Linked DNA regions of Homo sapiens. The protein of the gene in region 1 purifies or fractionates together with the protein of each later gene. This does not show direct contact. Each region holds a gene or a part of one and is shown in the gene's direction. Other genes may lie near its edges.

Region 1 (2,624 bases):
GGCTGGCCTCCTGGGAAACACAGGTGACTCGAATGAACTCTGCATTTTCAACGTGCCTTCTACTGCTTCAGGACCTGGGGGTCCCCCTGACCCTCACTGGCTTGCCCCCAGCCCTGGGCCTGGCCCCACCTGTCCTGGAGCCCAGAGCCCCTGGCCTGGAGCTACCTCTCTGGGGTGGGTCTCAGGCCCCACCCCTCCCTCTTTTGAGTTCAGTGCCTTGCTCAGCCCCTCCCCTGTATCTCAGCGTCTTCAGACCTCTGACAGAGCGACGATGTAGGGTCTCCCGGGGCCCAAGGTGGTCTCAGGGTCAGGGGTGGGATTTGCAGGGAACTCGGGGAGCCCACGGGCTGCGCCACCTCTGCCCTGGCAGCTGAAGCCTGGGAGAGTCCCTGCGTGGTGTAATTGGCCTCAGCCCGCTTTCTCTGTGCCGTCGCACCTCAGTGTTTCTCATAGCTTGTCCCCACGTGTCACTTTCCATCCACGGGAAAAACAAATGCCCCTTCTCCATCTATCATTGCGACTTCCTCCCAGGAGGCCTCTCAGGTTGGGTAGAGCAGGGGCCTGCAGTGGTCAGGCCAAGAGCAAGGAAGACCTGGCTGCCCCACTGTGGCTGAAAACTCAAAACATCTGGAACTACCCTTCTCCAATTACGTTCCCTCTTGCTTAAAGACAAAGCTAATTAAATCATCCTGCCACCCGAGGCTCCAAACCAAATCTTGGACGCAAATTCATTAGCTTCATAAAGCCCAGGTTGATTTATGTGACAGTCTGGAACCGCCCAGCCATGGAGTCGGTGGCCGTGTTCCCTGCCCTGGAGGGAACTGGCCAGCAGTGACCACATCGCTGATGCCAAGTGGGGACCCTCACCACTGCCGTTGTCTAGCTGCTTTGCTCCTCAGTGTCCTCCTGCTGTAAGTCAGATGAGGTCACCTTCCTCTCCATCGATGCCAGGCTTCTGCCGCTGACGGCCAATGGGGCTTGGGGCCAGGGGCAGAGAACCCCAACAGCAAGAGAGCCCCAGGTGATGCTGGCTCTCCACGTGCATCCGGCACGTTTCACTGCAGCCATCATCAACTTGGCAAAGTAGGCAAGCTCAGCTTGTGGTTTCCATTTTGCAGATGGGCCCCCGGGGTCAGTGATGGGAAGAGCAGAAGAGGATGCCAGCCCAGCCTGGCCCAGGAGCAGGTGTCGTTGTGGAGGAAAGCTTAAACTCAACAGCCTCTACCCAACATCTGCCACCTGCATGGCCCCAGATGCCCCCGGTGCAGGCCAGGTCAAGGTGGGAGTAAACTTTCTTTGCCTCCCTCCCCACAGAAGCACCAGACCCACCTGAGCCCCAGAGCCTCATGCCAGCAGCTCCTGGCTGTTCCTCACCTGAGGCTAGAGCAGCAGCTGCCAGCTTATAGATGGGGCGGATGGCAGGTGATAGACTGGGAAGCACTGCTGGGTGGTGGAGGTGGGCAGTGGCACCATGACGGGCCCCTAGCCACACAGCTGTCCTCACTACGGGGCAGGGAGCAGCCTCGGCAACAGGCAAAGGCCAGAGTCAGAGTGGTGGGGAGGACAGGGGCTGCTGCCCCGCTCCTGGAAAGCCACTGCAGAGGGGCAGTGGCTGGCAGTGCCAGGCCTGGGGGAAGTGGAAGCGTCCTGTCTGGGGGCAGATTCCCAAGCAAGGGTGACCCATGGTTAAGGGCCACTGGAAAGCTGGAGAGAGCTTGGGATCCCTTCCACCTGGGGCCAATGGTGTTGATTGCAGACTGGAGGGGTAACCTCCGCTGAGGGTCATTATGTGCCAGGCATGGCATTGGGTACTTTCTGCATTGGGACCAGGCAGCCGGGCCTGCCATTTGAGGCAGCGAGCCTCCGTGACCTGTCCTCCCTCATTTGTAAAGTGGGGTAACAGCTATGTCACTGGCCAGTTGTGGGGATTAAAGTGCTGAGCTTAGTGCCCAGCCCAAAATGCTCAATAAAGCTATTCAGTGATACCTGTTTCCCACATCACTCACCAGCCATAACTACTTGTAGCCAGGGACCCCTGACTCATTAGGACTCAAGACACCTACCTGGTTTCATAGCCTTCTAATGAGTTGTCGCCGGGTTGCAATTCAGAAACAGAAAATTGGTCTGAATTCTCTGGAGTCTAGAGGGCTTTGGGGATAGGGGTTGACTCTGGTTCCCCAGTCCCTTAGGAAACTTGAGGACAGTCCTCCCCTTTCAAAGAGCAGGACAGGCTAGGCTGGAGGGTCCTGGCTGAAGACATCAGCCTGCCCTTTTGCAAGCTCTGCCCTCCTCCCCCACACACACCTGGCTCCCTGCAGAAAGCTGGCTTGGACCACAAGCCGCTCAGCTAGACACAAGGAAAAACAGCTACAGCAGCAACAGAAGGGACCCCAGTTAGTAAGATTTTCCTGCTCTGAGGCCAGCCACAAGGGCCTCCCTCTTTCTGTACCTCACCCAAAGAAAAACAATGGTATTTGAGCATGTGGGTCGCCAGGCCCTTGTTTATGATGCTTTCACATCTATAGCCTTACTTCTCTCTCCTCTCCCCTGCCACGCTTTCTTTCCTTCCCTTGGTGGTGCAGGAAGCCAGGCCAAGCTAGTTCTGAACTCAGGATGCAGCCTTC
Region 2 (3,746 bases), on another chromosome or scaffold:
GTGTAGCAGCCTGCCCTCAGGGCCCCTGTCCCTCAGTCCCCAACATTAGTAAAGACGGTACAGATAGGGAAACTGAGGATCAGAGAAGCACAAGTGTCTGCTAAGGAATATGAAAGAAGTTGGGCAAAAAGCCAGCTACAACCCTTTCCCCCAGCCCCAGAAAGAGAGTTAATTTTTATCTTCGATTGCATCTAACATCCTTCCTTAAGGAACACCTAAGAGCATTTTGTTGTGGCCCCTGCCCTGTACAGCCAGGGCAGCCGTGGTTCTGAAGCTGAGCTCCCTCCCACCCCAAATTGTCTCTGGTCCTTAATTCCAGCCCCTGCAATATGGTGCAAGGTTTACCCGCAGCTGACTCATGCTCTGGCCAGCATCTCTGCTGCCCCTCACAGAAGCAGCGGCAGCAGCTCTGAGTCGTTTGAGGATCTGGGGGATTCCAGCAAAGCCACCATTTGGGATCAGGGTTAGGCTTTTAGCTTGGAGCCCATCTTTTTGGTATCTAAATGCCGTACACCCTTGCTGAAATTTTCCGGACAAATGCCTCCCTTCTCATGGGCCCTTGGTATGTCCCCTCCCCACCAAGTTGACAAAGGCAGCCAGCTTGGGGATGGCCAGAGAGTCTGGGGTCCCAGAGAAGACATAGCCCTCCCTCTCCCTTTTTGCCCATCTTTGAGGCTGTCGTGGCCACAGCTGCTGTCCCAGCAGAGACCCCCAAGCAGCCTTTTCCTCAGAGCAGCTTAATTCACCCCTGTCTTGGGGTTGGAGGCTCAGGAGGGCTGATCCAGGATTGGCATAGCAGGGAGAGCTGCAGGGACAAGCTGGGGGTGGTCGCCAGCTTTTTAGCTTAAATTTAAGATTCTGAGTGACAGGAGAGTCGGGTGCAGAGAATAAGGAGCCTGACGCGGAGGCGCCACGTGCTAATGCCTTGCCGGTGCCGTCCCGTAAAGATAAATCCTCTTTATGTGTCCTTGCACCAAGCCGGGCTTCCATGGAACACCACGGGGTAGTCCATCAACACAACGTTCAGGCTCTTCCTCCTTGATTGATTGCAGTCTCCCCTCCACGAGGGTGTGGGTCTCTCTGAGAGGGGGAAAAAATACGCACATGTGTGGCCTCAGCACGGGGGATTTCCCCTCCCCCCACCCCCTCCAGCCTGCCTTAGCTTGCTGTGTCTCTCACTGGCCCTGGCTTTCTGTTTGGCAGGTACAGCAGCTCAAATTATAGAAAATCAAAGCTGAAGAGTCCCTCAGAGATTGGCCAGGGAAAGACCCTCTTTTTATAAGTAGGGAAACTGAGGCCCAGAATGGGTAGGAGCTGAACTCTGCTGCCACATGGCAGCAGGCCGGATACAGGGCAGGACAGGGGTCCCTTCCTGGCCCCACTGGGGAGCTGGGGTCTCCATCATCAGAGAGCCCCTGACTCAGGCCCTTGTGTTCAGCTCATCCCTGGCTTGCTGAACCTGAATAATGAAGTGTGCGTGATGGAAGGTGTTAAAAGATGGTGGGAATATACCAGTGCTCATGGAAACCTGTGCTGATAGGAGAGCGCTCAATAGTTCTAATTTCCCTGGCTTTAAAAGATGAAGCCTTTTTACCAGGGACCCCTTGAGTTCAGAGCCTGAGTGCAGAAAGAGAGACCACAGGGACACGTGGTAGTGCTGGGGTTAACAGGTTTCTTGATTCCTGACGGAGGGGGGTCGTTACATCTCCATCCCCCCCACTGCCCCTCTTTGATGGAAAAGTATGAAGAGCTGGTGGTTTTTCTGAGGGTTGGGCTGTATTCATCCCCCGGCTGGCCAGGACCCCTCCCCTAACAGGAGAGGGTGGAGATGCAGTCTTGTCTGGTGGAGACAGGCCTTAGGGAATCTCAGCTAGGCACGCTGTTGCAGGGAGGGGCATGATGTCCACAGTGAACGTCACGGACATGTCGCTGGATATGGGGTGACCTGGTGCCAGGCAAAGGGAACAGCTATCCTGGCCTGAATATCAGTGGCCACGACTTTCTGATCTGTGACCTTAGGCAAGGAAACCCCTTCAGCTTCCTGAGCCTCAGCTTACTCACTTCATGGGTTTTTTTGAGGGGGCTCCCTAAACCCTCTTACTCCAGACCCCACTCGGTGGCCATAGAGCCATTTTAAAGCCCACTGGGGCCCGCATCACGCTCGTGTATGGAGAGGAAGCTAAGTTCTCGTCTTCCCCGTCACCCCGCAGATGTTCGGGCCTGCTCCTCGGCCCCCTGTGCCAACAACAGGACCTGCGTGAGCCTGGACGATGGCCTCTATGAATGCTCCTGTGCCCCCGGGTACTCGGGAAAGGACTGCCAGAAAAAGGACGGGCCCTGTGTGATCAACGGGTAAATATCCTTCCTGTGTGTGATCTAATGAATGCTGCTTTTCATGCGGCCACCAAAGACCCTTTCAGCCTAACCCTGCTGGACCTGTCGTCTGACAAAAGATGAAGTAAGCGCTCATCCTGGCAGCCCCGTAGGGGACCGCCCTGGATGGGAGTATTCACGGGGGAATGTGTCATTGCCATAATTTTTTCAAATGATCCTGAAGGCGATTTCATATTCCCCTGATGTTCTCAAGTCCCGATGCGTGTGAGTGACAGTCGATCGGAATGATGAACTGACACTCGGAGCTGCGTAATTTTCTAAAGGCAACGTAGTAAAAGATTGGAGCTCCGCGGGGCTGAGGCTGTTTGTGAAACCCACTTGCTGTATCTCAGGGGGTGGTTTTGGGGAACTGGTGGGCTCTGCAATTGGATTTTCTGGGATGTCTGTGGAGGGAGTTGCCAGGCTGAGAGGTGAAGAGATTGGGCTTCTGCCAGCACGAGAGGAGGTGGGCCAGCTGTCGGCTATCCTCAGTGGGGAAGGGGGCTTTGGGACTCCTGGGCAGCGGACATAACAGACAGAGTGGCCACTGTCTTCACTTGGACCTCCCTGAACAATGCTTCCCAGCAGCTCAGCCTCTGCCCACCCATTATCTCTTTGGCGGCCCTGAGCCATCCCTCCCCGCTGGATGGGGCTTAGCCTGAAGCCAAGGGAGATCTTGACAGAGGCAGGGTCCGAATGTAAGAATCCAAACTTGAACCCAGTCCTGGGCCTGTAGTTGGGGGGCAGGGGTGTCCCTTTCCTCTGAAGAAACAGAAGCTAACATGCAAATAAGCTTATCTTGACCGGACATCGCAGGGTGGCACAGAGACCCCAGTAGTCTGTAAGAGCTGTAAACAGACATTAACGGGGCTTCCAAAGATCAGTCTTCAGACGGGGTCAGAGTGGGGGCTGGTGAAGACTGAACTCCATTTCTGCTTATTAGCAGGAAGGAGAAAAACAGAGCGAGACCTTTAAAATATTTTGCTTTTCTCGCGAATGGACTTAAACCAGTGTGTCAAAATAGAGCCTAAGGCCCTTGAAATTCCTTCAGAGCCCAGCTCCCATGCAGCCCACACCCTGAAGCAGCAGTGCTGATTTCTTGTGTTTACTGCCCCTTCTTCCCCGGAGTTTTGCCATTTATCGGATGACAAAGGGCTCGCTCGTTTAAAAGCACTTACATTAAATGCTCCTTGTACTCCACTTTGAGCAAACAGCTTTGGTTTGCAAGCTGCACTTGGGTGAATGGACCACTATTAAACAGCCTGGTACAGACGCTGGCTTGTGCCACCGTAGACAGACCTCGTATTGCTTTCTCTTTGAGAGTCCCCAAGCGCTTCCTGCACAATAGCCTGTGGATCCACACCGCTAATAAT

What was found.
Region 2: the proteins of SLC38A12 (region 1) and DLK1 purify together in Homo sapiens (co-immunoprecipitation; one large-scale study listed by IntAct). This does not show direct contact.

What each region holds. Positions count from the first base shown.
Region 1 is NC_000017.11:74,837,769-74,840,392, forward strand, and holds the end of SLC38A12 (transmembrane protein 104), read left to right. Parts: 3' UTR 1-1,118; coding exon of another isoform or gene 1,119-1,333; 3' UTR 1,334-1,985; downstream 1,986-2,624.
Region 2 is NC_000014.9:100,729,832-100,733,577, forward strand, and holds part of DLK1 (protein delta homolog 1 isoform 1 preproprotein), read left to right. Parts: intron 1-2,210; coding exon 2,211-2,352; intron 2,353-3,746. UniProt on the Homo sapiens protein: May have a role in neuroendocrine differentiation.